Linked DNA regions of Homo sapiens: regions 2, 3 and 4 are each reported to be linked to region 1. Evidence: microRNA targets listed by miRTarBase, many of them from high-throughput screens and not tested one by one. Region 1 holds a microRNA gene; each other region holds the end of a gene's coding sequence.
The links. Region 1 holds the annotated microRNA hsa-miR-3909 (UGUCCUCUAGGGCCUGCAGUCU, at 2,910-2,931, opposite strand). A microRNA usually pairs through its seed, bases 2 to 8, with sites in the 3' UTR of a target mRNA and lowers its output. Matches are read on the target gene's strand: a 7mer-m8 pairs with bases 2 to 8, a 7mer-A1 pairs with bases 2 to 7 and ends in A, and an 8mer does both.

Region 1 (7,114 bases):
GGGCACAGATTGACGGCTCCCATCCTCCAGGCCTGCCTGGAAATGGTAAAAAGGGTCTCATTTCCTGCCTCTGGAAATTAGGATCTGACAAGTGACCTACATGACAGACAGCAGCAAAGGCTGGAGAGGTTAGGGAGGGTGTTGCTGGCCAAAGACTGAGACCAAGACCACCAATGGCTATGACCAGGATTGGCCAAACTCAGGAGACTGATAAATAGCTCCAGTGCCCGTAGGCTCATGGAGAATTCCCAGCAGACCCTTTCTTGAGCAGATCTTGTTTCCTATTTTATAGACTGTGGTTGTGTATGAGGTCGTATTTGAATGGGGGATTCCATTCTGCTGCTGAAAACACATCTATAAACTGCTGGGTGAGGTGCCATCTTGTCTTGCACTGGCTCACCAGCACAAAGATGACTCTGCCCCCACCTTGTCTCAGCAGCATGGGAGGTGGCTTGGTTACAGCTCTTCTAAATGTCCTCTGGGGGGTGCCAGCCAGCTAGGCAGGGTGGGGAGGCAGGAACTGGGAGGGCACGCAAGGCTGATGGGCTGGGAGCGGCAGAGGCTGACCCCACAGTTGCTGGGCAGATGAGGAGAGGCAAGGAAGGGTATGTTGTGTGTGAGGTTAAGTCTCCTGGGGAGCAAGAGAATAACCTGAGTGAGAGGAGAAGCTGGCTAAGGAGGAGAGGCGGCTATGGTGTCTTTCCCAGCTGCCGCAGTGGGGGTGCCCAGGGCAGGTGTTGGGGACCCAGCCCTGTTGCAGGGAAAGAGCCCTGTTATTCTCGCCCTGAACTGCCGGCAGACAGGACTTCAGCACTGGCTCAGTGCAGCTTTGAGGCAAAGAAGTAAGCCACAGAATTCTGGTCACAAAGGGAAAGGCCTGCGATTCCTGTTAGGAACAAGGCCACCTGACACGCTAGTGAAGCGGGGCTGGTCTAACTGTAGGCTTCAGGAACTGGGACTGCATCACATTTAACTCTTGCAATACCAGCTTGCTTTCTGAGGAATGGAGTAGGCTGGCACTGAAAGGGGCTTCTTGAATATGACCCCCAGTTCCCACGCAGTCATTTTGAAGAGTGCTGCTGTCTGTTCCTTCCCACCAGGGGCAGAGTTTGCTGGTGGAGTGTGACCACTAGCTGGGGCATTCCCTGGTTACACGGCTCCCATCCATGGCAAGTGGGCCAGTGACTACGGCAGGGCCCTGCTGGAGCCAACCTTAAAGCCAGTGGCGGGGGAGGTGGGGCGTCAGGTTGCTGACTTCTGACCCAGAGAAGGCCTGCTAATTGAGGGTCTGGAGGTGCTTGTTGCTGTCTCTAAGACATGCTTGGCGCATTGTGGGCAAGGCTGAAGAAGCCATGCCCAGCCCCAGAACACGCAGAAACCCATGATTTCCCTTCACTCAAAACAACTATCTGGGCCAGGTGCAGTGGCTGAAATCCCAGCACTTTGGGAGGCCAAGGCGCGCGGATCACGAGGTCAGGAGATCGAGACCATGCTGGCTAACATGGTGAAACCCCGTCTCTACTAAAAATACAAAAAATTAGCCAGGTGTGGTGGTGGGCGCCTGTAGTCCCCAGCTACTCGGGAGGCTGAGGCAGGAGAATGGCGTGAACCCAGGAGGTGGAGCTTGCACTCTGCAAGCGCCACTGCACTCCAGCCTGAGAGACAGAGCGAGACTCCGGCTCAAAAAAAAAAAAAAAAGAACTATCTGCCCTTCCTAAGCTTAGCTCCTCGCCACCCCTGCCCACACATGGCCCTGAAGCCCAGCTGTCCCTGAAGGCCATGCCTGTGGTGGTGGAGGGCCAAGCACTTCCCTGGAGGAAGCCCGCACCTCCTGCACTGGGTGGTGACCCCTGGGCTAGGGCCTGCTGCCCCCTGCCCAGTGCAGGAGGGTGGAGGGTCACTCCTTAGGTGGTCCCAGTGGGGCTGGTGGGCAGGGGCTGCACCTGGGCCACTGGGGTGACACTTGTCTAAGTGCTCCTTGTAGAGAAGGCCTCTGTGTACAGCAGCACTGACGAAGATGCGGACAAAGCGGGGGAAGGACACCCCTGCCTTTGTGAAGGCCTAGCCGAGGCGTCTCTGCTGTGGCTCGCCCAGAAGCCCTGCTACTCCTTGGCATTGAGTGGATAGGACTGGCTGCAGGAAGGCTGTGACGGTGCCAGCTGTGGTCAAGGCTGGAGCAGAAACAGCGGCTGATAAGGAGCTGGTTTCCCTGCCAGCCAGGGCAGAGCTGGTTGCAGGCTGGTGTGAAGTGGGGAGCCAGGCAGGTACAGGGAGGAGCGGGCTGGACACCAAGCTGGCAGAAAAGGCCAGTCAGGTGACCAGAGCTGGAAGATCCACCAGAAGCATTTAAGGGGGCCAGCCAGGCAGGAGAACAAAGGGAAGACGAAATGGATGCTCAGGTCCACGCCTGACCTTGCTGGATGTTTTCTGCCAGGGTGGAAACCAAGCCCTGGGGAGGGCCTGCAGGAGAACCAATGGCCTGAGAAGGTGCATGATGTCATTTCAGCTGTGCTCAGCTGAAGGCAGTTTCAAAGATGAAAATCTGATAAGAAAAAAGATCCTTCCTGTGCTCCCTCCTGCTCATGTTAGAATAAAATCAACTGCCTCTCTGTAGCCCAGTGGGCCCCACCACCCTCTCAGCATCCTGCCCCCTTCCCTGTGTGAAGAGCATCTTTCCCAGCTGCTGTGCGGGAGCCAGGGCACCTCTCTCCCGCCCTGCCTCTGAGACTTTGCACATGCTGTTCCTAGTGCCTGAAATGGCCTTCCTATCACCCAGCACCTGGTCCAGCTCTGAGTACCCTCCGCAGAGTTGCATGCTCCCTCCTCTGTGTCCACAGAGCCTGGTGCCCCCTCCAGGACAGCACTTAGCCCTTCACAGCGGTGGTCCTGGTGCATGTCACTCTCCCATGAGACTGCAGGCCCTAGAGGACAAGTTCCTTGTGTGCTTTTCCCTGTCCCCCGGAGCCTGCTCCCCAGAGGAAGGACAGCGCAACAGCATACCTCAGCCAGGCTGGTGACCAGGGCAGGCGCCAGGGTTCTCCAGTATGGCCAGCAGTGTTGCCTGCTGGGGCCTCTGTGGATGGGCGTGTCTGGCTGCAAGTCCCATCACACTCATTAGCTTGCCTTTGCAGGGTAGCCTCGGCAGCACCCCTAACTCCATGGCAACAGCTGCTGGTCCCAGGGTACCTGGGCTTAAAAGTACAGACTCTGCCCAGACTAAAGAAAGATACAGCTAACAGCCAGGGCAGCCCTAAGGACCTAGCAGGCTACAGCCTGGACCTGGATTTGTGGGTGTGGAGAGGTTATCCCTGGGCTCTCTGGAGGCCCATTGACAAAGTTCCAAAAGACACCAGAATGACCTCTAAGGAGCTGAGTGGGGTCAGTGGGAAGATCCCATAATCTAGAACTTTCCTTAGCTATAAGAATCCTGGCTGCCCACAGCTCAGCCCTGGGGGTCACAGTGGGCAAAAGGCTGAAGAAAACATCAAGCAGACTGTTCCTCTTACAAGCCTGTACGGGGCCAGTTCTCCCGCAGGTCCCGGCAAGGGGTCAGACCCTGGTGGACACACTCAGGCCACGTGCCTATGCTGCTGAAAGTACCCCCTGAAAATGCACGGTGCACAGGGAAGGGCAGAGCCCCAGCTCTGGGGCAAGGCTGACAGAACCTGCTTAATCTTCTCTGGAAATTAACGGTGGCTATGGAACAACAGAAAAAGACTTGACTTGAAAGTCCCTGAGGATTTATCAGGAAACTTCCCTGCTCCTGGAGGGCTTACTATGCGGTACACAGTGCAGGGAGGGGGGCGGGGGGTGGAGACACTGTGTTTTGGAACCAGACAGCCCTAGGCTCCTAACCTAGTGCTGCCAAATATTAGCTCCTTGACCTGGGGCAAATGAGCCTGCCCCTCTCTGTGCCTCAGTTTCCCCCTCTGATCAGACTATGTAAGATTCTGGCATACAGTGGGTCATTAGGCTCCCCCTCCCCCACCCAGCATGGCCTGTGGGGAGCGCAGTCTGTCAACTGACCACAGGGCTCCCAGGCCATGCTGGACTGACTTAGGGGATACTAAGGGCGTGCTTACTAAGCAGGGTCCGTGTGCCCTTCCTCATGGTGTGCCACCATAAAACCGGGTTCCAGAACCCCGAGAGCCACCCGAACTGCAGGGGACCAGGGCAGGGCCAGGCCACTCACTCTTTCCGTTGGTCAGCCAGTGAGCTGCCCCGTGTCAGCGCAAACATGTCAAACTCATCTTCCAGTCGACCAGAGGCCTCCAGAGACTGCAGGCCAGCTCTCACACTGCTGGAGCCCAGGTCTGCAGGGACAGAAAGGCCACGTGAAAGACCCATCCACAAGCTTGTGTGTGAGCTGCTGCTGAGCTACCTGCTGCCAGACCCAGGGCTTGGTGCTGGGGAAGTGGCACGTGTGGGTGGGGGAATGCGCGAGGCAGGCCACCTGCTGCTGGCTGTGGGGCCTTGGGCAAGCGGCTTCCTCTTCCCAGCTTTAGTTTACTCACCCCTCTTGGGGCTGCTGTGAGCGTTAGAGAACAGTCAAAACGCTATCCATTGATTCTGCTGGGGAAGTGGCTGGGCAGGAGGACAGTAATCAGATGGGTAGTCGATTTTTTCAAAAAGTATAGCATTAGTGATGCAAAATGGGGTGCTAATGATTTCCTAGGGCTTGGCATGAAGCAGACAGTAAATTATATTAAAACCTATCACAGTGATAACAGTGACAATGGCCAACTACTCAGCCAGAGTGCAACCTGGGCCTGGCATGGTCTAAGCGCTTCTCATACACGAGCTCCCTACTCCTGTTAAAGAGGAGGAAAGAGAGGCTCAGGAGGTTTAAGGAACTTGCCCAAGCTCACGCAGATGATTGAAGCCATGGAGAATTCAGTGTAGAGGGCCAATCCTAGGATGGTAGGATTTCTGAGATCCAAGGCGGCTCAGGACTTGTGGGGCTGCCAGGGGCAGTGACCCCGAGTGCCCCACCTTGCAGCAAGATTCAGCCTGGGACCCCAGCAAGGTGGGGTCCAGACTGACACTCTGCTGTGGGTATATAACAAGGGCACCCCGAAAATCTGCAGGGGTGCCCACAGTACCATAATGTACCCTCAGCTGGAGCCCTCCAAACCACACTTACTCATTCCTGCCAGCTGGGATGAGAGGTTGCCGGTGGCTGCTGGGTCAGGGCCCATGTCGATCAGGTCAGCTGCCGGCTCGGCCTCACTTGGGGCCTGGTGGGAAGGGAGATGCCCTGATCATCCCCGCTGTCTGCAGCTTCGTTCCTTTCTGCCCCAAGCACTGTGGCTTGCAGGCTTTGCCCAGGGATCTGTCACCAGGGCCCCAGGAGCTAGGACTGGGCATCAGGGAATTTCCTTCCTCCCCTCTGGCTCCAGCTCAACTGGACTCCCTGGGAGGTTGGGGAGACCCTGGGGCATCAGGTGGTGGCACAGCCTTATTTACCTTAAAGGGACAGGGACATAAAAAGTTAGAAGGGGATTTCTCTATGGGCCTGGATAAGACAGCACCACCCTGTCCAGTTTACTAGGGGAGGGAGGTGAGAATGGCACTCCTTCTTCCCATGAACAGGGCCTGATCTAGTCACAGAAAAGAAGACTTTTACCTTGGTGGTCTGGCCTGTTCGGAACCGTTCAAACCTACAAGACAGAAAAGACACGAGTTATGGAGACAGACTGAGACAGGCCCCCACACACGGCCAGGCAGAGCTTTTCAAACTGTGGGTCTCAACATCAACACGGTGGGTTATGATCAGGGTGATGACACGTCTGGTGTGCCCTGGACAGATCCAGTTCATGCCTGCTGTCCCTGGGTAACTAGCAGTGCTCCTCTTTCCCTTGCAAAAGTGTCCCAATTTGGATGATCAATTATAAGGCAACCTTAGTCATGAGTAGCATGAAACAAATAAACAGGAATAGGTTAGAACAGCAAAGAAAATAGGAATGCATGGCACGCAGTAAAGGTAAGGACTGTCTTATGAAACTTGTTTCAATTACATATTTGTGTGTGTGTATGTGTGTGTGTGTGTGTGTGTTAGTGCTCTCTTCAGTGCTGTAAGAAAGATACATGTATCTCTAATCTTGTTTTATGGAGCTACTTAGGGGCCGGTGTGATAGATCGAGAAGACTTTAGTGTGGGGTCTGTTCAAGTCGTGGCCTTGTCACTTATCACATGACCTCGGGTAAATTATGTTCCTTCTGAACTTTAGTCTGCTTGTCTAGTATCTGTAGGCACCTGCCTCCCTGAAGTGCTGAAGCCCAAATTAGGACATGGGTATAAGTGACTGCGAGCTTGAAAGCACAGTCAGATATTAAGCCTAATGACTGTGGATATCTGAGGGTACCAGCTGCTACCAGATGGGGCCCCTCAGTCACCTCACAGCCCATACCCCAAAATGGCAGGGAAGAGGCCTTTCATTCCACTGGGCCAACGAGCAGGAGAAGCTAGGCAGACGTGACCTGCAGGGTACCCCCCACTTTCCACTGATTTAGAATCAATCAGTGAGTGTCTTTTGATGGAGAAAGACACAAAAAATGAACAAGGGGCTGGAGGAGGCTGGAATAACTCATGTCAGTTATCAGACACCCTGGACTGCTAAGCGCTTTACAGACACTGTTTCATGGACTCTCACTTATGCCACAAGCCTCATTTTACAGATACAGAGGAGGTGTGATGGGCACACAATTTCTGCAGACCCAGCAATCCTTCTCCTTCTCTTTCCTTTTTTTTTTTGAGATGGAGTCTTGCTCTGTCGCCTAGGCTGGAGTGCAGTGGTGCGATCTCGGCTCATTGCAACCTCTGCCTCCTGGGTTCAAGCAATTCTCCTGCCTCAGCCTCCCAAGTAAGCTGGGATTACAGGCACCCACCACCACCTCCGGCTAATTTTTTTGTATTTTTTAGTAGAGACGGGGTTTCACCATGTTGGCCTGGCTGGTTGCAAACTCCTGGCCTCAAGTGATCCTCCCGGCTCAGCCTCCCAAAGTGCTAGGATTACAGGTGTGAGCCACTGCGCCCAGCCCTTCTCCTTCTTTTGTAATAGCACCTAAGTACTCTTTAGAGGAACTGCTCCTCCCCCATTTCACATCATCCCGGT
Region 2 (7,114 bases), not on the chromosome of region 1:
AGGTGATCCACCTGCCTCAGCCCTGCAAAGTGCTGGGATTACAGGTGTGAGCCACTGCACCCAGCCTGTAGATCACATTTTGTTTATCCATTCCACCTTTTGGACACCTAGGTTGTTTCCACCTTTTGGCTATTATGAACAGGGAGCACTGCTGTACAAATATCTGTTTGAGACTCTGTTTTCAGTTCTTTAGGGTACACACCCAGAAGCGGAGTTGCTGGATCAGATGGTAATTCTATGTTCCATGTTTTGAGTCGCTGTCACACTGTATCCCATAGCAGTTGGACCACTGTGCACTCTCCTCAGCGACGCACAAGGTTTTCCATCTCTCCACATTTTCACCAACACTTACTAATTTCTGGGTTTTTGATAGTAGTTGTCCTAATGGGTGTGAGGTTGTTTCACAAATGGGAGGAACCTCAGGGTGTCTATATGCAAACAGGAAAGATCCAGGAGCCAGAGAAATTGATGCTGAAGGAAAGAGACAGGAGACTCACTGAAGCAATGTCCTTGAGCCAGGAGAGATGCTAAGATCCCGTGCAGGGGAGGCGCTGTCCTCAGACCCAGTCACGGCAAAGGCCAGGGTTGTGGGCACAGATGCAGGGTGAGAGGGCAGATGTGGTGGGGCAAGCATGAAGCATTCTCTTGTGTTTTATTTTCTCGGTGAAATAGACAGCAAGGTAACCAACTGAAGGTAAGGGTGGGGTGAGGACAGAGGCTTGGGGATAAAGGAGAACACATGAAATAGTCCATCTAGAAGAGTGGGGTAAGGTGTGGTGGCTCATCCCTATAATCCCAGCACTTTGGGAAGCCAAGGTGGGAGGATCACTTGAGCCCAGGAGTTTCAGGCTGCATTGAGCTGTGATTGCGCTACTGCCCTCCAGCCTGGGTCACAGAGTGGTACTCAGTCTCAAACAAAAACCTCAATTAATCCTTTTATTTAAAAGATAAAATAGGCCAGGCGCAGTGGCTCACACCTGTAATCCCAACACTCTGGGAGGCTGAGGTGGGTGCATCACCTGTCAGGAGTTTAAGACCAGCCTGGCCAACATGGCGAAACCCCTTCTCTACCAAAAATACAAAAATTAGCTGGGCGTGGTGGTGTCACCTATAATCCCAGCTACTCGGGAGGCTGAGGCAGGAGAATCGCTTGAACCCGGGAGGCAGAGCTTGCAGTGAGCCGAGATCGCACCACTGCACTCCAGCCTGGGTGACAGAGCGAGACTCCATCTCAAAAAATAAATAAATAAATAAATAAAATTAAAAGATAAATAGAAAGAGTGGGAGACTGAGTGAATAGGAGCTGGTAGGCTGCATAACCAATGGTTGTCTTTGCCCCTGCAAAGACATTGATGTCTGAATTCCTGAAACCTGGCCAAGATGCTAAGACGAGGAGAGTGTCCTGGATTTTCTGGGTGGTCCGTTGTAATTACAGGTGTCCCTACACTTGGGAGGCAAAGGGAGATCTGACTTCTGAAGAGATTCCGTTGCTATCTCTGAAGATGGACGAAGGGGCCATAAGTCAAGGAATGCAGGTACCGCTGGAAGCTGAAGGCAAGGAATCAGATTCTCCCCTAAAGCCTCCAAGAACAAATTCCCCATTTGAGCCTAGCAGGCCTGGCAACACCTTGCTTTTATACTTCTGGCTCCCAGAGCTGTAGGAGAATGAAATTGTATTGTTTTAAGCCACTGAGTTTGTGTGGTTTGTTATAGCAACAACAGGAACTAATATATCGGGGAGGGGACCTGTTGTCACTGCTGGGCAGCACCAAGGACCCCCATAGAATTTATTCTTTTTTTCCATCCCCCAGGCTGGAGTGCAGTGGCAAGATCTCAGCTCACAACAACCTCCGCCTCCTGGGCTCAAGCAATCCTCCCACTTCAACCTCATGGGTAGCTGGGATTCCAGGTACGTGCCACCGCACCCAGCTAGTTTCTGTATTTTTCTGTGGAGATGAGGTTTCACCATGTTGCCCCAGGCTGGTCTTGAACTCCTGAGCTCAAGCAGTCTGCCCACCTCAGCCTCCCAAAGTGCTGGGATTACAGGCATAAGCCACTGTGCCCAGCCAAGTCTAATGATCATGAAATGAAAACGCGACCAGCCAGCATGGTGGAAGGCCATCATCCTGCCCCAGCCAGGTGCAGACGTGCAGGTGTGGCACAGGCAGAGAGCTGGGTTCAACCAGAGAGAGAACAACAAACCAGGAGAAAGTGCCGTGGGTGCGTACAAGGGAGAAAACGTAACCAACAGCTGCAGGTGCCACTGAGGGAGAAAGACAGGAGGAAGTAGGGGTGGGGGGAAGTGGGATGCTTGAAATTGAGATTAGCGTGCAGTTATCAGTAATGCCAGGCTCTAAGGCACTGGCATGGGCACACCCCGAAGGCCACATCCGCCTCCTGCCCATTCTTTCATGTCCTGTGCACAGCTGTTTTCACACTTCAACAGCACAGGTGAGTGGTTGTTGCAGAAACTGTAAGGCCTGCCAAGTGTAAAATATTGATTCTGGTCAGGCGCAATGGCTCACACCTGTAATCCCAGCAGTTCAGGAGGCCCAGGCCGGTGGATCACTTGAGCCCAGGAGTTCGAGACCAGCCTGGGCAACACAGGGAAACCCAAAAAATAAAAATAAAAAAATTTAAAATTTAGCTCGGCATAGTGGTCCATGCCTGTAGTCCTAGCTGCTCAAGAGGCTGCGACTGGAGGTCAGGGCTGCAGTGAGCCACGATCACATTTCAGCTTGGGTAACAGAGTGAGACCTTGTCTCAAAAAATTAAAATAAATTTGCTCCCTGGCTCTTTATGGAATAAGTGTGGGGAGCCTTGGTCAAGGGTTGAGTGACTGAGACAGGCTGGAGGACAGGACCATGGAGGAGAGGAGGGCGAGAAGCCAGGAGGCGGGGCGTTCCATCAATCACAGATCCTATAATCACCAAGAATGAAAATGGTCCCACTGAGGGAGTCACAGGAGCTGGAGTGACGATGGTGACCCAGGGGGTCAGTGGAACCAATACACAGGCCAAGGTCTCTCTCCCCTCCAAGGCTTTCTTCTAATTAATTGATTTTATTTATTTATTTTATTTGGAGACAGACTCTTACTCTGTCACCCAGGCTGGAGTGCAGTGGCCCGATCTCAGCTCACTGCAACCTCTGTTGCCTTGATTCAAGCAATTCTCGTGCCTCGGCCTCCTGACTAGCTGGGATTATAGGTGCATACCGTCATGCCCAGCTAATTTTTTGTATTTTTGGTAGAGATGGGGTTTCACCATGCTGGCCAGGCTAAGGCCTTTAAACTCAGAACTCCTTTTGCCTGACAGTTCCCTGCAATCCTTTGTTCTGGAAAACTGCTGCTCATCCCTCAGGAGGAGGTCAGAGGTCATCTCCAGAACCCTGTTCTAACCTCCTACCTGGGCCCAGGGATGTCCTCTGGGCCCCCAAAACCCTGTACTGGTCTGAGTATCCCAGGGGCAACCACTCTCCCCGAGTGGGGTCCCCAGGAGGGCAGAGCCTGGCTGCCTAGGCTGCTAGGGATCTGCAGAGACCCCATCCCGGTCCTGAGAGCAGGCCCAGGAGACCTGGAGGATGAAGGCATGAGACCAGGGCACACTTGGAACCCAGCCAGCTGTGTGGTCCCGAGCAGGAAGTTCTCTTATGGTTCACAGGCTTGAGGGGGCGGCTGTAACAGGGGTCCCTCTGTGGTCCAGTCACAACAGGGGCCAGCCAGACTCCAGGGACCGTGACGCCATCTCCCCTTACACAGGGGTGGCAGACAAGTAGGAGCATGGACAAACCCAAGCCCAGACCCCAGGCAGAGCCAGGGGTCGACGTGTAAAACAAACAGGTTTATTGATAAGCAGGAATGCCGTCCAGCATACAGTGCAAACTTTCATTGTCTTGGGATCAACACACACACACAAGGGAACCAAGGCCCCACAGAGTCTCCAAATTCATCGCTTCCCGGCTCTGCCCTGTGATGCCAAGGAAGCCTGAGGTTCTCCCAGGACTGTCCACCAGGGGGCAGGTGCGCTCCATCATGTCCTCATGTGGGTCCAATGTGGGCAGAAACCTGGCCAGTCCCAGCAGTCTGACTTTTTTTTTCTTTAAGAGACAGGGTCTCACTCTGTTGCTCAGGCTGGAGTGTAGTGGCGCGATCATAGCTCGCTGCAGCCTCAAACTCCTGGGCTCCAGTGATCCTCCCCTCAGCCTCCTGAGTACAGGTGCACGTCACTGCAGCCAGCCAGTCTGACATCTTGATTCCAGGGTGGAAAACCCTTCTTGTCTCCATGGTAATGGCTGGGCTCTCCCACCCTCCAATAGTTCAGCTGCCAAGCTCAAGTCCAGTGGAATTTATCAACAATTTATCACCCTGCCCCTGCTCTGCTAGACAATTTCATGCCTTCTCCTTTATCCCCATGCTCCTGAGACTGAGCCTTTCCAGGAGCCCCTCAACCTGCTTCCTCCCAGAATCCGGGCAAGGCTACACTGGTTTCCCCTCTGCAGGGCCCTGGCCCTGGGAGGGGGAAGGCTGACTCTAATGGGGAGGAATCCCAGCTTCAGTGGCTTCAAGGCAGGCCATTCAACTTACCGACCTTGGCTACACACACCCACGACACGCAACACAGACGCAGACACAAGACTGGCACTTGGGATCACACTGGCCATGTACCAAAGTGGCAGGGCAGCCCGTTTGGGGCCCAGGAATTGAAGGTGGGGAGTGGGGAAGAGGAACCCACCCCTCTGGGGGAGGAGGAGGGTCTAGGCTGAGGTAGGAGTAGAGAGATGGCTACGAGGACTCAGTCATCTCTAGTTCCTGAAATTCCCTGAAAGGAGATGGTGTGGCCTAGGACAGCAAGGAAGGAGGCGCGGGGCTGCAGGCACACCGGAGTGAAGGCGGAGGGTGCAAATGGCAGGTGGGGGGTTGGATGTGGCTGGCAGAGTTTGGCTTTGTCGTTGGCTTGTTGGCCTGAGTGGTACTTACTTTTTTAAAAAATTGGCAGATTTCTAGTTAGAAGTGCGTTATCTTGCCCAGGCCACAGCACTGAATATGGTGGCCTGCCTGGGCCCTCTGGGCATCTGACTTTCACACCATGGTACAAAAGGACAAGTTGGCATTTGGAGGCGGTGCTTTTTTTTTTCTTTTGAGACAGACTCTCGCTCTGTCGCCCAGGCTGGAGTGCAGTGGCGTGATCTCGGCTCCCTGCAACCTCCGCTTCCCGGGTTCAAACGATTTCCCAGCCTCAGGCTTCTGAGTAGCTGGGACTATAGGTGCCCGCCACCACGCCCGGCTAATTTCTGTATTTTTAGTAGAGATGGGGTTTTACCATGTTGGCCAGGCTGGTCTCGAACTCCTAACCTCAGGTGATCCACCCGCCTCAGCCTCCCAAAGTGCTGGGATCATAGGCGTGAGCCACTGCACCTGGCCTGAGGTGATGCTTTCCAAGCCTCCTGAGCTAACTTGAAGGACCCCGTTCCCTACAGGGCTGCCACCTCCTCCCTGCACAGAGCCCCAGGACCATCCCGCAGTCTCAGCCTCAGGCTGAAGCACTGTCCTGTCTTCATGGGTGACTCAGGCAGCATCCCTCCTCTCCAGAAAGCCCCTCTGCAGAAAAGGATGCTGGGGTTTTCTGGAAGCCAGAGCTGGGGCAGAGCCCAGGGGGAGAAACAAACAAACAAACAAACAAACAAACAAAAAACCCAAGGGCTCCAGAAGCCAGGCTGGCAGGTGCAGCTGGGCGGGGCAGGTCACAGAGAGTCAGGGACTTGCCCCAGCATGCCCCGAACGTCCATGCCCAGCCAGCCTTCCGAGAGGGACACGCCATGGCAGCAGAGGCTTTCCACAACTCGCTGCCTCTGCTCTTGGCCTGCAGGTCAGAGGGAGGCTGCGGCTGTGGAGGGCACTAGAGGAACTTGGCCCAGAAAGAGCCTCAGAGTCCTAGTGGTGGGGGCCTGGAAGGACCAGGGCCCCTTCGCAGGGTCATCCTGCCAGGGCTCAGCCCACCTTGGCTACGACACAGCCCACACCGGCCTGGTTAACTGGGCTTCATCCCAGCATCAGGCACTCCAAGGGGCAGGGGCTTCTCTTCGGTGCTCCCCAGCAGGGTCTCTGGCGTCTCCAGCTGTGACCGAAAGGCACATTCCTCCTTGGAGAAGGGGACCTGCTCGTCCTTCGGGGACTCCGAGGGGCTGGAATCTGTGTCTCCCATTGTGGAGCTGGCTTGGGAGGAGCACTGTGAGCTGTGGTCAGAGCTGCTACAGACGTTCACGATGCAGGTGACATTGACCTGGGTCCCATGGCCACCAGGGGAAGAATCTGCTAAGCACAAGATGGGGTGGGGGTCAGTCCGGGGGTCCAGGAGTGGGGCCCAGGGACCCCTGCCCAAGATGCAGATTCAGACACATGGGAAAGAGCACTGGGCCAGGAGCCGAGACCAAGATTCTAGCCCAGCTCTGCTGTGTGACCTTGAGCAAGTCACTTAACCTGCATGTGCCTCATTTTCCCCTCTGCCGAATAAGAATAGCATCACTACCTACCCAGCCCCAATCACCCCAGAGATGGGAGGAGCCAATTATATAAAACAGATGTCTACTTGGGAGGCCAAGTTTGTAGGATCGCTTGAGCCCAGGAGTTCAAGACCAGACTGGGCAACATAGTGAGACCCTGTCTCTTCTGTCTTTTTTTTTTTTTTTTTTGAGACAGGGTCTCAAAAGAGTGCTGTGTCACTCCCTCAACTCACTGTGACCTCTGCCTCCCGGCCTCAAGTGATCCTCCCACATCAGCCTCCTGAATAGCTGGGACTACAGGCCACCGCACCCTGCTAATTTTTTGTAGAGACAGGGTTTCGCCAGGTTGCCTGGGTTGGTCTCGAACACCTGACCTCAAAGAATCTGCCTACCTCAGCCTCGCAAAGCGCTGAGATTACAGGTGTGAGCCACCGTGCTCAGCCTCCAACTTAACTCTTGATTCTACTCCCATCTCGCATCCAAAACCTCTCCTGCTCATCACAGTTCCCATTGCTGCCATCCACCCAGCTGCTTGGGCCCAGAGCCTCGGACCCATCTTTCTCTCATATCACACACCCATCCATCATTCCTGCCTTGTCTCCCTTCAAAAGATGAC
Region 3 (7,114 bases), not on the chromosome of region 1:
GATTAACTACTGTGCCCCCAATGATCTCCTAGGAGCTTTGCCTGACAAGGGGGATCTGATGCACGACCCAGCAATGGATGAAGAGCTGGAACGGCTGTAAGTGTCAAGTGGGAGGATACTGCCCCCTTGTGGGGGCCAGACGGGTCGGACACGGCTGTGCCCCATCTGGGGCCAACACCACTTGTCTGTAACATCCCACATCTGCCAGGGAAGGGTCTGGGGGCCAGTGGAGGCCTGAGGTGTCCCTCCCTCTGAGTCCTTTGGGGGCTGCAGCCCAGGGGTTTACCCTAGTGTTAAGAGTGGGCATGGAGGCCCTGCTCTCTGTACAGGAGGCCTCTCGCTGCCCTCCAGGCTTCTTCCCTTCTTCAGGCTGGCCCAGGTCCCAGGCCTGGTCAACTCGGTCACAGCCAGTCCAGAGGCCAGTTGCCTGCCTTCCCGGACCCCTCCCCGGGTTGGCTCTCCCTGGAGACCTCTCCATCATTCCCGAAAAGTGGATGGAGAGAGTGATGGCTCCACTGAAGAGACAGACGAGTCGGAGACTTGAGGAGTCCAAAGGGTCCTGCCCACAGCGCCCTGTACCTGCTCCCACCCAGCCCTTGGTGTGCCCACCCAGCCTCCTCTCCAGCACCTTGCTGTGCTGCCCTCTGCTGCTGACAAGGTGAATAACAGCCCCAAGACCAGCCAGAGGGGCTCTGATGATCAGCCCAGCCAGTGGCCCCGGAAGGTGAATGGCCTGCTCTCCCTGGCCCTATCAGCCTGTGAACTTCACTTAGGCCCCAAGCTGACAGACTGTGCTGAGGCCACCTTGTCACGCCGTAGCCTGTTAGTCCTCCTAACCTCTTAAGAGCAGTCTCTTCTGAGCCAGCCTCTGCGGGTCCCCCAATAAGGTTCATCTCCTCACAGCAACTCCATTAAGGGGGAGAACCCGAATAGCCACGCAGGGCCTTGCACCATCAAGGGTGACACCTGCGACGCAAGTACCAGGAGGACATAACCGCTGTGGCCTGTTGGAGAACAGCCAGTAGCCTTGGTAATATGAAGGGTGGGCCAGAAGATGATTTCACTTGCAAAAACTGCTTCAAGTCTTGACCCCTTTGTGTCTAATAGCTAAACAAACATGTGAAACGAATAAAAAGTCCCTCATGTCTGGTAACTGGTGAGTCTAAAGCTCCTAGGCTGAGGGGAGAAGGGAGAGGGGGAGTTTGGGTTTTCGGTGCTTTTCTGGTAGGACTAGGAGGTAGGCCAGTGGCCCACTCAGACCTGGGGACCTGCCTCAGACAACGAGCAGAGGGGCCTAGCTTCGCACAAGAGCAACCTTCCAGAGGAAAAGTGCTCACAGCTGGAACGGCCTTCAGGAAACAGGTTCAGAGGGTTCAAGGCCAGGTTCCCATAACTTTAAAGACCGTGGCCATAAAGGGTTAATACTGCACAGCCTTCCAGCCAGGGTTTCAGTCAACATTTGCCAAGCACCTGCTTGGGGTTAGAACAGTGGGATGCAGCTGTGAAAGACAGACAGACACAGCCTGGGGCAGACACATCCCAGCCAAGACTGGAGGCAGGTAAGGACGAGTGTCTTCAACTTCTTTGGATTGAGGGCTGAAGGGGCGGGGTCCCCCAGAAAGCAAAACCCACCCAGAAGCCCAAGCAGAACAGGACTGCCTCCTCTGAAGGTGGATGTCACCACTACTAGGCATACACATTTCCTTGGGCTCATCCCTACCCAGAACGGATCATTACAGGAACTGCCTCCCAAACCCCTGCAGAGCTGAGGCCAAGACTAGGCATTCCAGCCCCGAAGCTGCTCCAGGATGCAGTGGCTCATTGCCTGTAATCCCAGCACTTTGGGAGGCCAAGGTGGGCCAACTGCTTGAGCCCAGGAGTTCAGGACCACCCTGGGAAACATAGTAGGACCCTATCTCTACAAAATAACCTTAGCCAGGCATGGTAGCTTGCACCTGTAGTCCCAGCTACTTGGGAGACCCGAGGTAGATCACTTGAACCCAGGAGGTTGAGGCTGCAGTGAGCCATGATCGTGCCACTGCACTCCCGTCTGAGTGACTGACAGAATGAGACCATCTTAAAAAAAAAAAAAAAAAAAAGCTCAGGCTGCGTGATGAGCTCTGTAGGCCCACAATGATGCACAGCCCATAAGAGACATGGTTCTCAAATCCTGGTGTCCTCAGAATCACAGGAAAGCCTACTGACGATGCAAATTACCAAGCTCCAGAGAGTCTAACTCTATCAACTTGGGATGGAGTCCAGAAATTCCAGATGATCCCAAAGCTGAATGAGTCCCAAACCTACACTCTGCAAATCCCTGGCTTACAGCCCCCTGGCTCCCTCTGCCCATCCTTTCTAATCATCCACTTCCCAGACCAGTGGTCTGTAACTACCGTGAGGACTCCTAAGGTGGCACAGAGATGTTTCAGAAGCCCCCAAGAGAAAGGGGTGGCCAAGCTAAGGATTTACACACAAACACACACCTTTTCTTCCCTAAATTTAAAGGGTCCCATTAACGTCTAAGAGTATGTGTGTGTATGTATATATATGTAATTTTTTCTTTTTTGAGACAGGGTCTCACTTTATCACCCAAGCTGGGGTGCAGTGGCGCGATCTAGTCTCACTGCAACCTCTGCCTCCCGGGTTCAAGTGACTTCTGCTTCAGCCTCCTGAGTAGCTAGGATTACAGGCATGCACCACACCGCCCCCACCCCGCTAATTTTGTATTTTTAGTAGAAATGGGGTCTCACCATGTTGGCCAGGCTGGTTTCAAACTCCTAGCCTCAAGTGATCCACCCGCCTCAGCCTCCCAAAGTGCTGGGATGACAGCCATGAGCCACTGTACCCGGCGTTAAATATTTCTTAAACTCCACTGAAACCCATCCCCAGTCAAGCCTACTGCCGTGACAAGGGGCAGGACTGCTGAGGTTGCTCGCTCGCCCTCAGCCAGCGAGTTAAAGGGCCAACTAATGCCAGCTCTTTCCTCTGCGTGCCACAGGGTGGTGAGGTCGAAGCTGCACCGGACCTCACGGCAGCACAGAGCCAAGGAGCCAGGGGCCTTTGGCTTTCAGAGAAGAGAGAAGCAGGAGGCCCTGGAGAGAGTGTCCTCAGCTTCGGTACCGACGCCCTACCATTACCGGTGGGAGCCCAGAGAGTGAGGCCAGGGGCCGGCACTGGGCAGGGAGGCAGGATCCAGAGGACACTGCTTCACTCAGACCAACAGGGAGCCAGGCCCTGCAGGGGCTTTATTTTGACACCACTTTGTTTCAATACAAACAGTCCAGAAAGAAAGTCAAGTCCCTCTGGGGGAGGGGCAAGGGGAAGAGTGGTCTGTGTTGCTTGGGAGCCCAACCTACAACCCAAAGGTGGGGGCTGGGCTGAGACTGCCGGTGCGGCAGGGGAAGATGGCACCAAGAATGACAGTGCTTGGCTCAGCTGCCAGAGGGTGAGGCCCACAGCTCTCACTGGCGGGTGCTGTCCAGGCCAAGCCCAGAATGATGCAGAGGAAGGAGCTCAGCCCCAGGAGCCTGCCTCTGCCTCTCACATCCTCTGCTTCCCTGGCCAGCATCAAGCTCACAGCATCCAGAGTCGAATCACAGCAGACAAGACCCTCCATGGCCACCAACCCGGGGAAGAAGGGATAAAGAATGTCACAGAGGGTCCTGCATTCCACAGCAGATGGTACAGAGGGACCCTGAGACACCCTGAAACAATCTTCCAAGTGCTTACTGTAGAAAGGGGTGGTGAGACGGGAGAACCCAAGGGTCTCCGGTCTGATCCCAAATGAAACCTTTAGGTACCAGGTAAAGTTTCCAGCCCTTGGTAACGCCCAGACAAAGGTCCTTCCCCTCTCCTGGCACCCAGAAGAGGCCACTGGCAGCAGCAGCAGCAGCAAGTCCGCAGCCTCTTTCCCCATGGGACGGGTCTACAGTGAACTCCTTCCAGGCCTCCCCCTGGTTCCAGAGGATGGGGACCCAAGGCCTCGAACTAGAAGAACCCTAGAGCCAGCAAAAAAAGCCTTCTACCTTCCGCTTTCCCTACCTGGGGAAAGTCTGGACCCAGAATAAGCCATCGTGGGGGAACCCCCTTTCCCAGTATGGCAGGATAAGTGAGCAGCAGCTGTGGGGGCAGGACAGAAGGACAAGAGTCTAACACACGGAGGGTGGTGTGAGAGGGAATAAAGGGCTCAGTCCACAGGCAGAGGACAAGGGCTGGTACTGACCATTCCCCTCACAGGAGTGAGCGCCTCAAAGGCCACCCCACACACACACCACACATACGAAGTAACAAATCCTCCCCAGCTTCCACAAGGCAAAGCATCCCCAGCCTGGGAACTGTGGAGTTCTTGTTGCCGTCACCATCGTAAGCCTGAGTCACAGAGCTCGGATCAGTAGGAACCGTAGCGATCCTGGGGGCGAGGGGGGAGAAAAAAAAAAAAAAAGTCAGAGGCTCTAAGCTGCAGCAGCTTCCCAGCAAACACACTGCCTGCCCCAGCACCCCACAGCAAGACTGGGGAGGCAGGGGCTGGACAGCCCGGTGAGGCAGGAGTCCACGGTGAGAGCTGGGGCAGCGGCCACTCGGGCACCCGACAACAGGGAAGCCCTGCCTGGCCTCACAGAAGCTGGGAAGAGAAGAGAAAGAGCGGTACAGGTGACAAGGCCAGGGAAGATCATGGCAGACACAGAGGCATCTTGGAGAGGCCCGGCCCTGGCACGGAGCTGAAAGGAAGGAAGCTGCCCTCCAAGAAAATGCCTCTCTCTAGACTCTTGCTTTTTCGTTTGTGGTTTTTTTTTTGAGACAAGAGTTTCACTCCTGTCACCCAGACTGGAGTGCAGTGGCATGATCTCAGCTCACTACAACCTCCAGGTTCAAGCGATTCTCCTGCCTCAGCATCCCGAGTAGCGGGATTACAGGTGCACGCCATCATGCCCAGCTAATTTTGTATTTTTAGTAGAGACGGGGTTTTGCCATGTTGGTCAGGCTGGTCTCAAACTCCTGACCTCAAGTGATCCACCCATCTCAGCCTCCCAGTGCTGGGATTACAGGCGTGAGCCACCACACCCGGCCGAAAATGCTCTTAAGGCTCAGAGGGGCTGAGCAGTAGCAGTGTCTCTATGTGGTGGCGAAGGGCAAACCTCCCAGCACTCCTCATTAGGCCCCACTTCAGCCTCACCTGCAAGGAATTCATCACACCATTGGCCAGCACAGCCATTTTCCCAGCCACAGACTTGACACCCTGCTTAAACTGGGCAATGTCCGCTGTAGGCAGCACGTTCCCCAGAGATACACTTCCTGTAAAACAAGAGCAGGGTGACCCAGAGCCCAGCAAGAAGCCCTTCCCAGTCACAGCAGGGCCCTCCCGCCCTGCTCCCAGGCCTCACTTGGTGCCTGCCACCCCACCAGGGCCCTACCTGCTCCGTGAGCTCCATCCATGTCCCCAAAGAGGTCTGAAGAGCTGATGGCACTGCTGCCTGAGAGCTGCTGCAGCCGAGACCTGGCCTCATACTGTGGTGAGGAAAAGGCCAGGCCTGGGGATCTTGGGGCTGATGACCCAAGGACTCACACAGGCCAGGCCCTCCTGGTGCTAAAGCCCAAAGCAGCGGCAGGGAGAAAGCTCATGCTTCTGCCTGCTGCCTCGGACCTCAGGGCAGACAGCCCCACTTACCTCTGCATCCACCTCCCGCCCAAAGAACATGTCAGATGAGATGGCTTTGGCTCCTGCGAATTTCTGACGCGCCTCACTAGACTCGAGGCCTGAGCTCCGGCTCTCCACTTCCCTCCGGTTTGTGGCTCTGAGGGGAAGATGTGGAATATCTCGGACTCCTCCCATTATCATCAGGGGAGGCAGAGTACAGAGGCCAAACAGAGCACCAGTGGCCTTTTGGTGATGGGTTACCAGGTCCCATTCTGTCTGTGGCTCTGTGGCTCTGGGCCCCTCTCCCCTGGTGAGGAGTCACCCTTCTCCACATTGAGGCCAAGGCCCAGAGAGCTTAGGAACCTGCACTAGGCAGGGTGGAAATACAGCCTGCAGTGGCCTAGGCTCCTGCCCAAAAGCACACAGCTTCGTCAGCATTCAGGAGGCCACACAACTGCTGCTACCCTAATCCTAGTGACAACTTGCCTAGTACTACAATGAGCATATGTGTCGGTCTGCCTGGCTTTATACCTACTCTTGTCATAACTATGAATAGCAAACTGCCCCCTTTACTCTCAAAAGCATCCTGGTGTGGAAAGGGAGATGGTTGCTCTCATCTCACGCTGAGTATGTGGACACTGGGCCAGGTATTTCCGGAGACCCTATGAAGTAGTTACGTTCCCATTTTATACGGGGATAACTCACAGATATTATGTCAACTAAACAGATCCCAGATTAAGATGGAGTAGGGTTTTAAAAAATAAGAAGGGGGCTGGAGACATAAAACCCCTGAAAGGAGGTCAGGACTGAAGCATACAATCAGGCTCCTCCGGCCAGAGAAATGGACCCCAAGCAAAAGAAGCTGCCAGGCCCTCTATGATGACAAAGCACAACTCAAACCGAAGCCTGACTGCTGCCCTGTCTAATGAGGCAGGCACCAGCCACTGGTGGCTATTTACGTTTATCAGAAATTAAACTACATCAGAAATTGTTGCTCAGTTGCACCAACCACATTTTAAGGGCTCATAGCCACATAGTAGTGGCTACCATATTAAACAACACAGAGAACATTCCCATCAACACAGAAAGTTCTTCTAGACAGTGCTGCCTTAGAATTCTCTACCTTCAGCTTGTTTAAAAAAAAAAAAGAAAGAAAAAAGAAAAAACAGCCCACTCTACCTTTCTGAAATAGGCCGGATGCTTGAGATGGTCACTTCTGGCTCCTTCTCCTCTACCCTGTCCATACCCCAGGCAGCATCTGTATCCCAGCGGGAGCCAAAGCTTTCCCCTAAGGAAAAGGGATTGTCCTTGTACCTAGGGAGACAGTAGAGTGGCTCAGAGAAGCCTGATGAGGAACACAGCAGCCAAGTTTACAGCTAGAAAACAGCCTTACTTTGGGGGTCCAGAGGCGAAAGTACCAACATCGTCAAACAAGTCCAGCTGCGAGCGAGAGGATTTTGCACTCACTGGGGTTTCCTG
Region 4 (7,114 bases), not on the chromosome of region 1:
GGACCACCACCAACAGTAAAAAGTGCTGGTTAGCCAGGATGTTCTTACAGTAATCCATCCCCTGCCAGCATCCAGTACACGAGGCTTCTCTGTCCCGGCTAGAACCATTGCCTCACTGCTTTATAGATGCTGAGTCTTTTTTTTGCCATGGTCTTACTGTGTCACCCAGGCTGGAGTGCAGTGGCCCAATCCCAGCTCACTGAAGCCTCAACCTCCTGAGTTCAAGCAGTTCTCCCGCCTCAGCCTCCTGAGTAGCTGGGACTACAGGCACGCACCACCACGCCTGACTAATGTTTTTATTATTTTTTGTAGAGACAAGCACTCACTAAGTTACCCAGGCTGATTTTGAACTCCTGAGCTTAATCAGTTCTCGCCTGCCTTGGCCTCCCAAAGTGCTATGATTACAGACATGAGCCACCACGCTTGGCCCTGCTGAGTCAATCTACAGGTGTCATCCTATGCTGTAGACAGATGCCCTTATTTTTTTCAAGGCAAAAACCCTAGCCATTTTTCTCTTCCCCTTCAGAGTCTGAAACATCCTCTCAACCCATCCCTGTTACTACTGCTTGGTGCTCTTGGTGGGGATGCGGGGAGGCCTGAGAAGGCCAATGTCTATACAGAAAGTTCTAACATAGAGCACTGAGTCAATGTGGGCACTTTGAAGCCCTTTCACCTGCCAAGTCACGAAGCACCCCTACAGTTGTGTTTGTAAAATATTGGGGGGTTTGAGGGGGAAAAGGGATAACTCCAAGGTACCATCTTTGCATTTCAGATCCACACAACTTAAAGATCTGCTGCCGAGTGAATGGGGAAGTGGTCCAGAGCGGCAACACCAACCAGATGGTATTCAAGACAGAGGACCTGATAGCCTGGGTCTCCCAGTGAGTGACAGGGGCTGTCCTGCCAGCCCCGCTTCACCTGCCACACATGTGGAGGCTGACCTGAGCCCTCCATCTTTGGCTGTGGCCACCTCAGCCAGCCCCTGGTCTCACCGGGTCCTTCTGCTTTGATCCAGGTTTGTTACCTTTTACCCAGGGGATGTCATCCTAACTGGGACCCCCCCAGGTGTCGGTGTATTCAGGAAACCTCCTGTCTTTCTCAAGGTAGGTTAGCGAAAAGCAAAGAGCAAGGGCCCCAAAGGCCTGGCAGGCTTGCCTCAGACTTGAGAAGTACAGGCTTGTGTATGTGTGTCTGACGGAAGGGCTGACACTGTCATGGCCTGCTCTGTTGCAGAAGGGGGATGAAGTCCAGTGTGAGATTGAAGAACTAGGTGTCATCATCAACAAGGTGGTGTGATGGCTCCTGCACAGGCCCTGCACATAGGATGAGGGCATCTGCTCCCACTCAGCCTAGCCCAGGGAAAGGCCCAGTGACAGGTGTGGACAGGTGCCAGCCCTGCAAGCCGCCTCTTCTCGGTAGAAGGGAGAAGGACAGAGCTCTCTTCAATAAATTCGTCAGGTCAAAGCAGCAGCTTTGCTTCTGCTGTTTGTCTTCTTTTGGGCTTTGTTTCATGGGACAAGTTGGGGCATTTTGTGGGACTGGGGAAGAAGAGAGCAAATACACACACATATGCCAAAAAGATGCTGCTGGGCTGGGGAAAAGACAATTCGTGTCGTCCCCTTGTTTATCACATCAAAGAAGGGAAAAAGCAAGAGATGGCAAGGGACAATCAAGCCTCAATGATTATATTTATAGCTAAGGGTTTGCAGCCTCCTCTCCATCTTCTGGCTCTAGGACACAGCTGTGTTCTGGGGCTCAGAAGTCTCAGCACAGGCTCCTTCTCACAGTTCTAGCTACAAGTGAACTGCCGGATGAACTGTTCTAGTTTTTCCTGATTGTCCAGGCTGGCAAAAGTAGGGGACAGGTGGAGCCTGGGGCCTGCAGGGCTCGGCGTCTGCTGCAGAACCTGGGCCATGGAAGATGGGCCGTGAGTGCACTCACCACAGGGACTGTGTCCACATGGCCCAGGGGCCAGGCCTGTCCCCCAGAAACCTGCCTTGAGACCTCTGACCCCTTAGGCCTCAGTGTTTGAGTGCAAATGCTGCCTCAAAGCAGCCCCAATACCCCACCTAGAAGGATGAGCCAGTGATTTGGGAGACCAAGAGGCAGGAAACCATCCCACCTTCTCCAACCCATCACCACGTCTATTGCTGGAAGACACCAAGTAAATCCCAGGGTCTTAATGAGGCACCATCAGGCCAGCCCTGTGGGGTGATGGGAACATAGCTGGGTTTCCCTGAGCCACTCTATTGGGGTGGGAGCAGGGGGACAGAAGATGGTGACACTGGCTCCTCTCACCCCTAGGTCTCTGAAGGTCCAGATAGCACTGATGGCAAGCTTTGGGTCTGCACACTCTGGAAAGAAGAGAGAAGTGAAGGCTCTAGGTAGGGAGGACAGGGAGACACTGGGCACAGGCTTCTCTCCTCTTGTTTAAAGAAGCCCAGGGAGGGATAGATCTCCGACTGGACAGAAGACTACTCTGCAGCCCGCCTTCCTAGAGTTGGGTTGTCACTGTCCGGCAGGGGGCAGCAGCCACCAGCAAACACCACTGCCTGCAGGAGCCTGGGCTGACTGGTTGGGACTCACCAAAGATCCCTTCTTCCTGGGCGGTGGCCTGCAGGAACTGGAACAGCTGTTGGAGAGGAGAAGAAAAAGAAGACATCAAAAAGAAAATCTAGTGCTGGGTGGATATAGAGTATGAAGATGTGGAGCTGGGAAAACAGAGGATGTGGTGGGATGGGGAAGGAAAGGTTGTGGAAGGCCTGCACCCCGTCTCAGTTCCTCCACTGCTTCGTCCCAGATTCTGTTTTTGTTTTCCTGAATCAGACTTAGTCTCCCTCCATTCTCCCGTCCCCTGTGTGCCCCCATCCTGGTCCTGCCTCACTGGACAGCCTCTCCGCGGCCTTCCTCCTCCCTGCTCCAGAATTCTACTTGGTGCCCCCCAACCCCACTCGACTCATTGTCCACCTGGCCTCTGAGGCCAGGCACCCTCATTCCCCTCTCCCACCCACCCCACCCAAGGAAGCCCAGCACAGACCATCTCATCTCACTCCACCATCACTTCTTTGCCAAATGCATTTCCAAACACCCTCATGAGCTTTGCTGATCTCTTTGCCATCTCTCCCTGCCCCACTCCGATGGCTCCTCCTGCCTGGTGAAGACTGCCCTGGGTATCCCAGAACTGAACCTGCAGCAGCCAGCACAGCTGACCTTGGGGCGATAAGCAGCCAGGGAAAGGCTTTCTTAAAAAAAAACAAAAAACAAAACCAATAACTCAGTAAGCAGATTAAACAAAGGTAGAGACGGAGCCCTCCACCCCTCTCACACACTCATCCTCACACCCAGCTATACCACACCCCACAAATGTTGCTTATGTTTCCTTGGTCATTCTGTCCATCCTCCTGTCTGTCCAAAGCCAAGGACACTGCTCTACTCTAAATTTTTTGTCCCGAAGCCCCCAAATACTGCAACCCTGACCCAATGCACGAAGCCACCCCAAAATACAGCAGAGGACACCAGGACTTTCATTTTCCCTCAGTATGGCCCATCCTTTGGGTATGCCAACTCCATGTCCACCAAGCACTGCATGTAGGACAGGGCACAGTTTGGAGGCCTTGGTCCAGCCACTGCCCCAGACCCACCTTGGCTCTCTCCTCACTAACACCCGAGAAGCCCAGACTTCCCAGTGTTTAGCAACAGATTAAACTCTAAGCCAACAACAACAGAACAGGGTGGAGTGAGTGGAAAGCAAATGAAATGTTAAAAAAAAAAAAAAAGCAATACTTGCATTCTCATTAGTAGGAACATGTGAGATGAAGCATGTTATGTTATTAGGCATTCTCTTGATTCGGTAAACACAAGCTGAATAAATTTATAAATATCAGCATTAAGCGAGATTTAACGGGGAGCTGTTTATCTTCTGCCTGTCAGGCAGGCGGCAACACTCTCCATGTATCACTCGCCAGCCGTGCAGTCCTCACTCTCTTGCCCAGGTAAGCTGGGGAAGAGCCTGCTGCCGCCCAGCTCTGGTTGTGGAAGGGCTGGCACCAAGGAGCTGCGAGCTTACCTCAACTCATCTCACCTCACCATGCCGGCTGCGAGGCGGCCCGTGCAGTCCGTGCGCAGGAGGTCACACTCCCATGCTGCATCCCAGCCCCTCCAGAAGCAGAGCATGACCTGGGTGACTTTGAGGATGCTATTTAACCTCTCTAAGCTAAAGCTCCTCGACTGCAGCATCAACAGATCAGTGCCGACCTGTTAAGGCCGTCGAGAGCATCAAATGCTACTGTTCAGCAGGTGCCTGACACATAGTAGGTCCACAAGCAAATGATTTTCCTGCTTGCATCATTTCTAGCACAGAGCTGGAGGAAATGGCGAGGTGCAGGTGGCCGCTGGGCCCTGCTGTTCTACATGGGAGCAAGACAGCTGCTAGGTGAAGGGGAATGACCAGGCAGCCACAGGGAGGACATGTGGCCTCAGGAAGCCTGGGTGTGTATCCTGGTTCTGCTAGGAACACGTGTGGGGCTTTGTGTGGGTGACTCTCTGGCTCCCCAAGCCTCCCTTTCCTACTGTTATATCCTTAAAGTGCCTCTGAGGCCAAAGCCTTTGTGGCAATTGTCAAATGAGTCCATATGCAGTGAGTACCGTGTTGAGGGAGGACAAGGTCACCAAGAGCTGAGAATGTTTCTCCGACTGATGAGACCTAGATATTGGGTACATGGAGGTCCCCGGTCCCTTTGTGATTCCTGCAGCCTGTTGCCTCCTTGCCTGGACCCCGCCTCAGCTCAGAAAGCCAATTCCCTAGATTCCAAAGGCCTTCCCAGACCAATTAGCATGTCCTGCAGCTGTCAGCTCCCTGTGCCTAGCCTGGACCTCAGCTCATGTCTAGCACCCAGTCTCCCAACCCCACACATATTCACAAATAAAAGAAAATAACAAATGACATGAATTCTTCACTCCTGGTCTGGCTTGCTGTGTGTAAACTGCTATGACAATACAAGACGCAGAGGCGGGTACCCAATAAAAGCTGTTGAAAATGTGACTGACACCGAGTTTCAGCTATCCAGGAAGGCACGGATCCTTACAAGGTCCAAGCAGAGTCCTCGAGAATAGTTGAGAATTCTTGGGTTCCATATGAACTAGGAGATACCCACACAAAGGCTTGGATTTCCCAATACATAACTACCCCTGAACACTCCTTCTTTCCCTCGTCTCTCTGCTGAGACCTCTAGACCCTAAGGATCCACCCAGGACAACCTCTCCAAAGGTACCCTGATATGCTTTTCTTCCAGGCAGCATTTCCACAGAGCTGTGGGTGAAAGTCACAGGATGAAAATGTGCCATGGGACTGTATCTCCCACCAACACACTGCAGGCAAGGGGCACACAGAGTGCCCCCTCTGCCCATCCCAGGAATGGCCATCTAAGAATGATGCAATCTTTTCTAAAAAGAAAGTAAATAAAGGCAGGTGCCATATAAGAAGACCTTGGGGGACTATAGGGATGTTCCTTAATGTCTCAGAACATCTGCCTCCATCAATGAAATGAAGGATTCAAAGCAGCTCATCCCTGAGTTGACCTTAATGCTGAATCCTAAACATCACCCTTAGGATGCTATCTGGCTAGGCAGGGAATGAAGGATCTGGGAGCTGAGTTGCAGGAAGCTGCAGCAGCTTCCCATTTACAGATCCTCTAGTGCCAGTTTTTCAGGCTTCCTGACTAAGAGAAGCAGCCAGGCAAATTCCACCATTCAGCTACATTTACAGGAAGCTGGCTATTTGGGAGGCTCTCTACCAGAGGCTTTGGGAAAAAAAATGCAGAATTAATGTAAAGATCACATATTTACCTATGAGAGAAAAGATATCCAAGGATGCCCTTCGGCCTCATTTGATCTAAAACTAGGCCTGGAGCTACCTAATTGTCAAGTCAGTTCAGGCTTCTATAACAAAAATACTATAGACTGGGTGGCTTAAACAACAAACGTCTATTTCACATGCTGCTGAAGGGAACAACCATGGTCAGGAGCATGATGAGGGCCCTCTTCCTGGCTTGGAGGTGGCCATCTTCTTGCTGTGTCATCACATGGCAGAGAGAGAGACAGAGAAAGAATGAGAATGAGAGGAAGCAAGCAGTTTCATATTTTATCTTATAAGGGCACTAATCCCATCATGAGGGCTCCATCCCCATGACCCAATAGCCTCCCAAAGGCCCCATCTCCAAATACCACCCCACTGGTAGTTAGGGTTTCAACATACATTTGGGAGTATACAAATATGCAGTCCACAAAACAAATACCCCTAAGTTGTCTGCATATGTATGCTTGTTCTGGTGCTGCTTTGAGTATCTCAGACGATAGAATCGAGTGTAGATCAAACTTCTCTAGGCCTCAATAGGGTGAATCTAAAGATTGGGTCACAATAATGGCAATAAGCCACAATTCACTGGATTAATCTCACCTACTCCTTCAGGGGCCTATCCACATTCAAAGTACCACAAGTACCTGTAGAAGTCTCTGAGCAGTATCACAAAGACTGACATAGATACAGGCAAAATAGAAAATGGATAGATGGTAGTATGGGGTTGGGGGTGGTTGTGTGTGTGTGTGTGTGTGTAAGGAAAGAGGATGTCTTGTACTTGGGATACATGGGGATATATTGTTTTTGAGGCTGTTTGGTGGCAATACTTGCCCTGAGCTCAGGAAACAGGCCAGAGAGATATATCTGTTCCCTACTTAGAAGAGAGCACTGATGCATGAAGGTTGGGAGGAGGCCAGAGAATAGTGTATTGAAAGAAGAGAATGTGACCAAGGCCCCAACATTAAAAATGAACCTTGAATTGGAGATGGGGAATGAAGAAAAAGTCAGAGAAGAGGGCATACGTGGAGTAATCTGAAAGACAGGAAGAGCCACAGGTGTGCACAGTAACCGGGATGTGAGGTTAGTAGAGAGCTTCAGGAAGGAGGGAAAAGGCATTCATGACAAACACTGCAGGACACTCACAAAGATGGGGAATGAGTAAAAGCCATCGAGCTTGGCATTGATGACCTTCATGGGAACCATACAAGGAGAAACCTGTGGAATGAAACCTAACTACACAAAGCCAAGGAATTAGCAGTA

Region 2: the mRNA of TNFRSF1B is a reported target of hsa-miR-3909. Seed matches in the 3' UTR shown: 7mer-A1 at 4,032-4,038.
Region 3: the mRNA of CSTPP1 is a reported target of hsa-miR-3909. Seed matches in the 3' UTR shown: 7mer-A1 at 985-991.
Region 4: miRTarBase lists FAHD2A as a target of hsa-miR-3909. Seed matches in the 3' UTR shown: 7mer-A1 at 2,390-2,396, 8mer at 3,508-3,515, 7mer-A1 at 4,462-4,468 and 7mer-A1 at 4,655-4,661.

The regions. Positions count from the first base shown.
Region 1 is chr22:35,331,527-35,338,640 of GRCh38, reverse strand. MIR3909 (microRNA 3909) reads right to left here and starts at 3,001; the gene lies at 2,883-3,001. It overlaps TOM1 (target of myb1 membrane trafficking protein), which reads right to left. Exons shown (of 15, transcript NM_005488.3): 9 at 5,627-5,660; 10 at 5,144-5,237; 11 at 4,193-4,313. It overlaps MIR6069 (microRNA 6069), which reads left to right and starts at 1,842; the gene lies at 1,842-1,920. RefSeq lists an enhancer at 917-1,826.
Region 2 is chr1:12,205,933-12,213,046 of GRCh38, reverse strand. It overlaps TNFRSF1B (TNF receptor superfamily member 1B), which reads right to left. Exons shown (of 10, transcript NM_001066.3): 10 at 3,827-6,307. The coding sequence ends at 6,027. Among named protein-coding and RNA genes, the nearest start is that of MIR4632, 18 kb to the right of the region's middle. RefSeq lists a silencer at 2,489-2,568 and an enhancer at 5,557-6,057.
Region 3 is chr11:47,161,095-47,168,208 of GRCh38, forward strand. CSTPP1 (centriolar satellite-associated tubulin polyglutamylase complex regulator 1) reads left to right here. Exons shown (of 9, transcript NM_024113.5): 8 at 33-96; 9 at 370-1,153. The coding sequence ends at 544. ARFGAP2 (ARF GTPase activating protein 2) reads right to left here. Exons shown (of 16, transcript NM_032389.6): 11 at 7,029-7,114; 12 at 6,815-6,949; 13 at 5,666-5,792; 14 at 5,412-5,505; 15 at 5,174-5,292; 16 at 3,207-4,408. The coding sequence ends at 4,388. Among named protein-coding and RNA genes, the nearest start is that of ARFGAP2, 12 kb to the right of the region's middle. RefSeq lists silencers at 1-258, 9-175.
Region 4 is chr2:95,411,662-95,418,775 of GRCh38, forward strand. FAHD2A (fumarylacetoacetate hydrolase domain containing 2A) reads left to right here. Exons shown (of 8, transcript NM_016044.3): 6 at 773-881; 7 at 1,016-1,103; 8 at 1,234-4,955. The coding sequence ends at 1,296. Among named protein-coding and RNA genes, the nearest start is that of FAHD2A, 13 kb to the left of the region's middle. RefSeq lists enhancers at 3,647-4,147, 4,148-4,648.